Linked DNA regions of Homo sapiens: region 1 is linked to region 2. A link means that fine-mapping ties the variant in region 2 to the plasma level of a protein whose gene starts in the linked region. Region 2 holds a variant in brackets. A gene starts in the other region. All regions are shown on their reverse strands. Region 1 holds the start of CTSO (cathepsin O). Region 2 overlaps LPA (lipoprotein(a)).

The links. PIP is the posterior inclusion probability: the model's chance that the variant is causal. The UK Biobank Pharma Proteomics Project read protein levels with antibody pairs (Olink). The fine-mapping took linkage between variants from a reference panel, not from the people measured, so its PIPs are less certain.
Region 1: it holds the start of CTSO, and the variant in region 2 is fine-mapped to the plasma level of the CTSO protein (UK Biobank, PIP above 0.99).

What each region holds. Positions count from the first base shown.
Region 1 is chr4:155,951,401-155,956,780 of GRCh38, reverse strand. CTSO (cathepsin O) reads left to right here and starts at 2,915. Exons shown (of 8, transcript NM_001334.3): 1 at 2,915-3,068. The coding sequence starts at 2,934. RefSeq lists an enhancer at 1,510-1,804.
Region 2 is chr6:160,583,990-160,589,369 of GRCh38, reverse strand. LPA (lipoprotein(a)) reads left to right here. Exons shown (of 39, transcript NM_005577.4): 25 at 2,740-2,921; 26 at 4,165-4,324. Among named protein-coding and RNA genes, the nearest start is that of LPA, 78 kb to the left of the region's middle. The variant G/C (reference allele first, on the strand shown) is at 2,643.

The DNA.
Region 1 (5,380 bases), not on the chromosome of region 2:
AAGAGCTGGCAGGAAAAGCCCAGCCTTCTGATAAGGTTCTGAGGATTTTGTCCAAAGGCCTAAGAGGAGCTGAGGACTCTTGCTAACAGCCACATGAGCTTGAAATTGAATCCTTTAAACTTGGGAAACCTTCAGAAGATTGCAGCCATATGCAACAGCTTGTCTGCGTCCTCATGAGACACTCTGAGCTGGAACCACCCAGATAAGCTGCTCCCTCCTGGTCCACAGAAACTGTTTAAGATAAGAAAAATTCGTATTTTTAAGATGCTAAGTTTGAGGGTTATATTTTACATGGCAATAGATATCTAATACAGAGTTGAGGGAAGTTCCATGTGCTATTTTGCAAATTTGATGAAAAAAACACATCTCTACATATACATGTAATTTGTAGTGTTTATTCTAAGAATTAGCAGATACTTGCCACCTTCACTTTTCAAGCCACTTTTCAAAAACTTTGTTTTACTACTTAATAGATGATTCTGATCTCCCTTTTAACTGACCCAAAATTCTTCACAATCTGTGCGCTTCTTACTTATCTCATATTCTACTCTCCCCCATCCTTTTTTTTTTCCTTTACTCCATCCATGCTGACGTCTTTTATGTTTCTGGAACGTGCCAAGCAAACTTCCATCTCAAGGCCTTTGTGTTGACAGTTCTTTCTGTCTTAGCTTCTCTTTCCCTGGATATCTGAATATCCATGTGGCTCACTTTCTTCTCCTTCAAATCTTTGCTCAAAACTCTCCTCATCAGTGAGGACAGTATTGAACAGCTTATTTAAAATAGCAGTACCACCCCTCACACTGATGATGCTCCTTATCTGGATTTATTGTCCTTTAACACATGTACAAGTTGAGCATCTCTAATCCAAACACCCAAAATACTCCAAAATCTAAAACTTATTGAGTACTGACATCATGCCACACCTAGAAAATTTCACACCTGACTTCATGTGGTGGGTCATAGTCAAAATGCATTCAAAGCCTTGTTTTATGCATAAAATTACCTAAAATAGTCAGTAAGATTACCTTCAGTCAGTAGCATAAGTGAAACACAAATGAATTTTGTGTTTAGACTTGGGTCTCATCCCCAAGAGATCTCATTATGTATATGCAAATATTCCAAAATCTGGGGGGAAAAAATCTGAAATCTGAAACACTTCCAGACCCAGGCATTGTGGATAAGGGATCCTCAACCTGTAGTAATTTTATTGCGTCTCTCCCCCTCACTGAAATACCAGCTTCAACAGGGTGGGGCTTTTCATCTCTTCAGTCACTTATGCACTTCCATCCATGATGTGTCCTGATGACCTAGAACAATGCCTGACACTTAGGAAGTACTCAATAAAATATTTGTTGATGTAAATCAATTGAAATATCAGTCCCATAGGGATGGGGATTTTCATCCCTTTAGTCACTTATCCACTTACTTGATATATCCTCATTACCTAGAAGAATGCCTGACACTTAGCAGGTACTCAATAAATACTTGATGTGAGCTCCTGAAATGAGTTTAGTTCAAGGGGCTTTTTTACAATACCAATTATCCTAAAGTAAAGATGACTGCCTATATTTAAATTTCCTGACTCCGTAGGTTGTCAATAAACAGGGACTATGATCTGAAAGCAAAGTTCAGTTTAAAAAGAAAAGTATGTGCTTGTATGAGTCACAAAAAAGGGCTAAGTACAAAAGAACTGCTGAGGTAAACATGAACATCGTTCTGTGAACTTATGATTTAAATAAAATCTTTATCACCACACTTGCCAAGAGCAATATATCTTATCATGAACGTACATAAAAAACTCTTGTGTCTTTCCTCTTAATACTCGGAACATTATTTTTATTTTTATTACGAAGTTTGCATTGGAGAATATTGTAACTCACTGCACCTAGGTAAAAACTAAAGACATAAATCTGATGTTAGTTCTAAAAATCTACAAGGGTAATGATATGAATTTCACAGACATGGAAGCCTTGTTCAGAATAGATGATAATAGAAAGGCTCGGTAGAGCCAGGTTCATGAGTGTGTGACCTGTGCAGAAGTGGGTGCTTAGAAGGCCCATGGCTTGGGTTAATGCTCTGCTGTTGCCGTCTTGAAATTCTTCACAATTTATGAACAAGGGAACTTCATTTTCAGTTTACACGGAACCCTGCAAATTATGTACTTGGCTCTATCTTCCTTTGCAAACGGAGAAACAGGCTTCAAGAGTTTTGAAACTGCCATAATAGATCCAAAAACTGTGTATGCTTTTCACATCTGTACAATTTTGTTACGTATTTATAAACATCTGCTGAATGGATGACTCTATGTATTGGCCCACATCACTTCAGAACTAGGTCTTGAACTTAGGGATTGTGGCAAGAAGGAAAAAGGCAGCTTCCGGTGGCTCACAGGGCAGGCCAGGTGGCTCACACCTGTGAGCATTTTGGGAGGCCAAGGCGGGTGGATCACTAGAGTCCAGGAGTTCGAGACCGGCCTGGGCAATATGGCAAGATCCTATCTCTACTAAAAATACAAAAATAGCCTGGGGTGGTGGCACGCGCCTGTAGTCCCAGGTACTCCGGAGGCTGAGGCAGGAGGCACTTGAACCTGAAGGTCGAGGCTGCAGTGAGACCTGATCTCAACACACACAAAAGAATGACTCTCAGGCTTCTTTTTTTCTAATGGATGGAAGTGAAACCTCGAAAGCACATGGTCAAGTGCCTGACTCTTCCAAAACAAAAACAAAAACAAAAAAACTAGCCTCAGCAAGGAGGTCCGTAGCCTCCAGCTGACCGGATTTTCAGTCACAGAACACCGGGGACCTAAAAAAGGGTCAATCTCAGCATCGTGCACTCAACCCAGCTCCTTCCGCCCCTCGAGCCCAGGCTGGGAGGAGCCGAGGAACCGAAAGAGAAAACAGGCCGCGCGGGCGGCAGAGGAGCCGGGCGCCGCAATGGACGTGCGGGCGCTGCCGTGGCTGCCGTGGCTGCTGTGGCTGCTGTGCCGGGGCGGCGGCGATGCGGACTCCCGCGCCCCCTTCACCCCGACCTGGCCGCGGAGCCGCGAGCGTGAAGCCGCCGCCTTCCGGGTACCGAGCGCGCGCCTCCCCGGGATCTGTCCCTGCTCCCTCACTTCCTGTCCCGGGTCTGGGCTGCGGAAGAGGGCCCCCGAGAGCTGACCCTGCTCGTGGGCACCCGTGGCTCTGCGATGCGTCTGGGGCCCTGAGCTGCGGGTGCAAAAGCCAGCTTCTCTCTCCCCTCTCCTTGTGCCATGGTGTCACTCCCCCATGCCTTTGCTAACCAAAAGACTTGATTTTCCAGAAGAGATTTGTCGCTATGGATTTTTGGGACGCACCCAAATAAATCCATAGATACGTCCAAAGTGTCCTTGGTGGGAAGAAGCACCCCCTTTTAGCAATCCCCTCTATCGTTGCCACTGGCTTCCAAAGCTCTTCTATTTCTCTTTTATGAGAACCAGAAACAGGGAGCAGCCTGTTGGTGGAAGAAACCTGTCGTGTTTTTTTTTCCCGAGGAGGGCGCTAGTGATCAGAAGTTAGAAACAAAGAGCCTGTCTTTAGCCAGATTAAAGAATCCTGATGGTTTATGATTCTCCTTAAACTAACGCACCACTTTAAAAGTTCTTCCTGCCTTGGCGGAGACTGAGTTGAAGAAAAGAGAAGCATTTAATTTCCTTTTCATATTATTATACGAAATATAATATAATTTATATTTTATAATATTTATAATAAATACTTAGATTTGAGTCTAGCATGAAAACTCTGGAAGGGACCAGTTAGCTGAGCACAAATAATGATTTTCCTGAAACCAAGGAAACTGCAAGGGATGCCGATTTAGTGTTCGCCTCACTATGTTCTAGATAGCTGATACTATTTAACACATTTTTAAATTCATGAAAGATGCCATTATCATGATTTAATTTATTGGAAAAGAAAATTCTTTCATTCTGAATCAAACATAAGTCTGAGTTGAGTAATATTGCTCAAGGAAGTGTATCTTTTTTCCTGGTGTTTGTTGGAATTTCTCACAGGATTTCATAGCTGTGCTCTTTTCCCCCGACTCTCCTGGAAAGCTCCAATGTTTAGGAAGGCCAGCCTTCCCTGATTCTGTCCACTCTTACGTTTTGTCCAAACCGAGATGTGTACTGTTATCTCCACTTTATTATTCTTGAGTTCAGTTCTAGCTTTCAAAACCAGAAGTCCTCTTACTCTTTCAAGAACAAAATTCTGGCCTGTATTCTACCCCTATCCTCAACTTACGTTCGTTTTCCTGGTAAACGAAACCCCTTAGGGGAAAAGTCAGTTTCACCTTTATTGGTAACGTATTCATTGGCTAAATAAATAAACACACTGTCAGGCTCCTAAAAATAATATTTCAGGACAAAGCTCAAAGGGCTAGACTTATAAATATATTTTTAACATTTATTTAGATTTTAGATAATTTATAAATATATATGTGTATAATTTATGTAGTGACTCATACTGGTCCTGTAAAGAGGCCATACCCTGATGAATGTCTAGAAAATGTAACTTTTCTCAGGAGAAATACAAAGAAACAGGTTGAAAGATGGAAAGTTGGAAGTGGAGGAGGATCGAATTATGAAGACTCTTAGTACATTTTAAAAACCTCGGGTTAAGAAATACTGAAAAAATTTTCAAAGCAATTGCTGCCTGTAAGAATTTGCTTCATGAGATGGATACCCAAAAAAGAGAACATTGAGGCTTCAACGCACAGTTGCTGGAAACTGAACACCTCTCGGTGCTTAGTTGGACTTTATCCAAGAATGCTTTAAAACCGATTTTCTACCTTAGTGGTCCCCAATCTTTTGGCACTAGGGACCGGATTCATGGAAGACATTTTTTCCATGGACGGGAGGAGGGAAGTGGGGGAGATGGATGGATTTGGGATGAAAGTCTTTCATCTAAGATCATCAGGAATTAGTTAGATTAGTTAGCTGGAGATTGCTGTTCGGACTTGGGATAGAGAGCTGGACAGTGGGAAAGGTGGAAAGGGCCTTGCCTCCTTGGTAACCGTGAAACTTCTTGTTGAAATCAAGTTAATTCATTGGTGAATTGATGATTCAGGGGTTTGCAGCTGAAGATCTGGTTCAAGAAAGTCCTTGATTAATTAGTAATGTCTTTCATGGTCATGGGTTTAGAGAATGGTGAAGGTTTTAAAATTTGTTTTAATCTTAGCCTTAGATAGTTTTGTAAGTTTCCCAGGAATGCACGTTAAATGAAAGTTAGGTTAGCCCATGACTTTCCCACAAAATATTATAGTATTGTTCAGTGAAAACTAGACTCCACTATGGTTTATTATGGGATGCCTCACAAGACACCTGACTTTGGATGGCACCCCTTATCTCTGCACTTTCACTCCTTTA
Region 2 (5,380 bases):
CTTTTCTCATAGTTGATAGAAGTAGGAGGATACTTGGAGGTGGTGAGGTCTCATGAATAGAAAGCTCAGAAGAACATATGACCATGTGCTTAGAAATAGCACCATTCCACAATGCCCACTAAAGACCAGTGAAATAGTTCAACCAGGGAATTCTGTCATTCTAATCTCCAAGCCCTGGAGTGAAGGTTGTGTTTGCCATGTTTGTCTTGGGTAACAAGTGAAGGATATCTATATTGACTTCGAGATCTTCCGATCACTTTCTCCTCTAACCTGTATAAACACATTGGGTTCTGAGAACAAGGTGTCTGAAAAGCTATGTGTTGCCAGCCCATGAGGGGCAAAAGGAGGAAGGCAGCTGAGAGTCAGGAAGTATAGAGATGCTGAAGAGTTACACATTCAGGAAGATGGACAGAAACCCATGTCTGGCTATGCCAGCCTTTCTGCCATGAAGGACTATCAAATACATGAGAAAACAGTTTTCACAGGTTGGACAACAGATATGGTAGGCTTGAGAGAACTGAGAAAGGGAATCAAAGGAGATCAACTTCATCATTAACCTGTCTTCCTTCCTGGACACAGTGTTGGATTGAAGGACAAGCAGATGGAGCCCAGCTGACCACAGCAGTCTTGCTTAACTGAGGAGAGAGACTGGAGTCTGCGATGCCTCAGGCAGCTGATGTGTTCTAGGCTGGCTAAGAATGAGAAGGGATTTGTGGAAGAAAGGAGCTCCAGGAATACACACAGAAGTCTCCTCAAGGCTTTGGCTAAATACAAAGCTGCGTATGCACAGGGAGAGTTTTCATAAAGAAAGAACAACAAAGAAAAGCTACTTGGGAAAGAACAACTGCAGGGGAACAGTAAGCTCAATGGAGATGCCAGAGCTCACATAGCACTGGGGGATATTTGAATTCTGACCACTCAGAGGAGAAACACCTCACTACATTTTGGGCATTCAGTAGAGACCAAAGAAAGCTGTATTTTGGGATTGGGATCATCTTATTCCTAGAATCAAGGTGACTCCAGAAAAACTCCAACAACCCTTCTTCCAAGCCAGTCTAAAAGGATCCAAATGATCTCCAAGTAAATTAACTGCATTCCACAAGAAAAAAAAAACTCAACCCCCCTTAGAGGCAAGGGACAAATACAAGTTGCTCAGTTATATGGCATTCCTATTGCGTTACTTCTATTTAAAAATTTAATAGAGACACAAGAAGCTTTCACTGTGATACATAACTGGGAGAAAAAATCACTCAACACAAACAGGCCCAGAAATTATAGAATTGATGACATTGGTGAGAACATTTAAAATGCACCTCTGAGAACTGTGTTTCAGGAAAATGTCAGCAAAAGCTGACCATGAGAGAAACAAAAGCAGAATAGCAAGAGAAAAGAAAAGAACCGGAGAGCCAAATGAAAATTAAAGAACTGAGAAAAGGTACATCTCTAATGAAGAACTCACTGGATGGCCTTATCATCACTTTAGACATTACGGTAGGAAAGGTGACCTAGAAAATAATTCAATAGGAGCTACACAAATCACAGGACAGACAGACAGACCAACAGACAGAAACACACACACACACACACACACACACACACACACACACACACACACACAAAGACTGAACCTATTAATCAACAGAGCCTCAAGGGCATCTAGGAAAAATCCACACATTTAATATATGTGTTAGGCAAGTCACAGAAGGAGAAGAAAAAGATATCATGACAGACATTATACTTGAAGCGATGATGGCTCGCAACACGCCAAATATACAGAAAACAAGAAACTCATAGTCAAGAAGCTAAATGACTCAGGTATAGAATTTTAAAGAGCAAAACTCTATGATTTACTGGGATATATCATAGTTAAGTTGCCTCAATTCAAAGCTAAAAAGAAAAAAAGGGGGTTCCTATGAACAACAGCTTTGACAGCTGTTGATCTAAGACCACAGCTTAAATATCTAGGCAAGGAAAAGCAAATAAGGCACAAGGAAAGAGGATGGAAGGAAATAGTCCAAACCAATGACATTCAGTGGAAAAGAAAATAGACCAACAAAGGAGTAAATCCATGAAACAGAAAGTTAGGTTCTTTGAAAAGTCTATATGATTGGCCAAAGTCTGGCTAAACAGATGACAGACCAAGGAGGGAGCATATCCATCACCATCATGAGTAACAGGAGAGAGATGCCATTGCTATAGCATCCTCCAGGTGTGAAAGCTGAGAAGTAGATATTGAGATCAACTGTATGTAAATAAATTCATGAATGTAGATCATGTGGATGGATTGCTTAGGTAAATAACAAATCAGCAAATCAAACACTGAATAGATCATGCAGTTTTATAGAGACTTACAGACAGCCTGACAGATAAACATTTGTATGTACGTGAAACAATCTCCAAGACACACTTCAAAATCCCTCTCGGTTAATCCAAAGGAATGTATTTGGCAGAAGGTAGAAGGAGGGTATTCTGATCCTTTCTGGTACACATTGATGTTTTCTCTCAGTTTTCTTATAAAGCATAGATTACTTTGAATGTGTTACAATAAGAATCATAAGCTGTCTTTGAAATGTTGACAGTTGTTTAGAAGTTGAGGACCATTTGTGAGTGTTATGGGACTTTAGTGAGAATATTTCAAATTT[G/C]CTTGTTTACACTTTGTTACAAGAAAACATAGAGGGTGCCAGGTGGTGCTGTATCTTCTCCAATCTCTGGTGACCTGTATTGTTTTGGAATTTGCAGTGGCCTGACCAGGAACTACTGCAGGAATCCAGATGCTGAGATTCGCCCTTGGTGTTATACCATGGATCCCAGTGTCAGATGGGAGTACTGCAACCTGACGCAATGTCCAGTGATGGAATCAACTCTCCTCACAACTCCCACGGTGGTCCCAGTTCCAAGCACAGAGCTTCCTTCTGAAGAAGGTAAGAAGCCTGCAGTCAGACAACCATACCCTCGGACATTGGGATAAAAAGATTTGCAAAATCTTTGTGATGCAGAAAACTTCCATGCTGCACAGGAAGTCGAAGGTGAAGTCATGGACAGCCAATGGGAAGGAAGCTTCAGTGCCTTCTCTGGGGGGACCAGAGCTGGGATGTTGAGTGCCTTGTGAGGGATGGTGTCTTTAAAAGGGGCACAGACCCTCTAGGACACTGGATTTATCACTTCCCTGTTATCAAACGAATCATATTAGTGTCCTAGCCAAGATGGATATTCTAACATCCTGCCAAACTTGTGAAGATATACCAAGCTCCTAAGCCTGTCCAGCCCTTTCTTCAAGTAGGCAGTGTTTATTGCAGTCTTCAGCTTTACCATTTTGAAGGAATGCCATTTTTGAGGCTGTTGTTCTTGAGAAACCTAACATGTCTTCATTAGATCCGTATTGTCCTGAGACTTTGAAGCAGTACATAGCCACCAAATTGTTTATCTCCCCAGCCTACCTTCATCTTGGGCATGCCTTCCACACCTAGGATTTGAGGGAAGGGATTTCTCAGTGTTCTCATCCCTGCTTCTCATGGAACATTTATCTCCGTTGTTTTTTGAGAAGAAGAGTAGTGGATGTCAGCTTTCTTGTAATGAGGGATCCTGGGCCCAAGATTCCCTGTCTCCCCTCCTAGGCTATAAAATTTTGGCCTGTACTCCTTCTCCCTGAGAGGCAATGTGTCTTTACCTACAAGTCCTAGATGCAAGATCCTTTTCTGCCCCACACCCCAGAATCTGAAGGCTTTTGCTTTGGAGGAGCAGTGGTCTAGTGTGCAAGGGTTTCATGTATACCCCCCACTAACAGCCAATCACCACCTATAGCCTGAACAGCTTGATGCATGGCACCCTGGTCTCCTGCCTTGTTCTCATGAACACCCAGAAGAGGTGTAAGCAAAAGACCATTCACATGAGTGTAATTTTGAAGTATAGGCACTCTGATCTGTTTTTTGTTTGTTTCTTTGTTTGTTTGTTTTCCAGGGTTGAATTAAAATATTTATGACTACTTATTAAATTTCTAGAATCCTATAAGTCTATTTGTATTTTTATTCTACATTTCAATTTGCATGCTAATATAGAAGAGTGTAAATTGTTAATCCTCAGATTATTCCACTTTGTGTGTCATAATTTTTTTCACATTTCCCTTTTCTAGGCAATACTGAGCTTGATTTTCTCTTTTAATTTCAGCACCAACTGAAAACAGCACTGGGGTCCAGGACTGCTACCGAGGTGATGGACAGAGTTATCGAGGCACACTCTCCACCACTATCACAGGAAGAACATGTCAGTCTTGGTCGTCTATGACACCACATTGGCATCGGAGGATCCCATTATACTATCCAAATGCGTATGTCTATCATGTTAGCCATAAAAGGAACAATAGTCAACTAAAATTTCTCTTAGCTGGCCCATGCTACAAGCTCACTTCCTAGGTCCAAATTTCTCATAGACTCAGAGTTTGTAGCAAAATGTCTCAGGAAACTTACTTTTGAGCAAAAGGTCTGAATGAAGAGAAGTTTTAGGATTGCTATCTTTCATAACAATTTGATGGAAGCAGCAGGATATATGGAGGTGGTGAAGTCTCATTAATGTAAAGCTAAGGAGATCAAATGACCAAATGCTGAGACAAAGTATCATTCCACAATGCCCACTAAAGGTCCATGCAGTCTTTCAACCATGCAATTCTATCATTCTATCCTCCATTCCCTGAAGTGAAATTTGTGTTTGCCATTTTTGACACGAATCAGAAGTAACAAATTCAGGCTGGGTGCAGTGGCTCAGGCCTGTGATCCCAACACTTTGGGAGGACAAGACGGGCAGATCACCAGAGGTCAGGAGTTCAAGACCAGCCTGGCTAACATGGCAAAACCCCATCTCTACGAAAAATTAAAAAATTAGCCGGTCATGGTGGTGGGTACCTGTAATTCCAACTACTTGGGAGGCTGAGGCAGGAGAAACACTTGAGCCTGGGATTCAGAGTTTGCTGTGAGCCGAGAACATGCCACTGCACTCCAGCCTGGGTGACAGAGCAAGACTCAATCTCAAAAAAAAAAAAAAAGAAGAAGAAGAAGAAAAGAAGAAGAGGAAGAAGAAGAAGAGGAAGAAGAAGAAGAAGAAGAAGAGGAAGAGGAAGAGGAGGAGGAGGAGGAGGAGGAAGAAGAAGAAGAAGAAGAAGAAGAAGAAGAAGAAGAAGAAGAAGAAGAAGAAGAAGAAGAAGAAGAAAATAGAAATGAGTGCATATATTTATATATGAGTACTAGCCTGTATGAACACACTGGGTTCTAAGCACCAGTTTTCTGAAGGGATATGGGTTGTCAGGCAGAGTAAAAGCAGGAATGCAGATGAGAGTCAGGAAGTAAACAGATGTGGTGATTAAAATGGGCAGGTACATGGACAAAAAAAT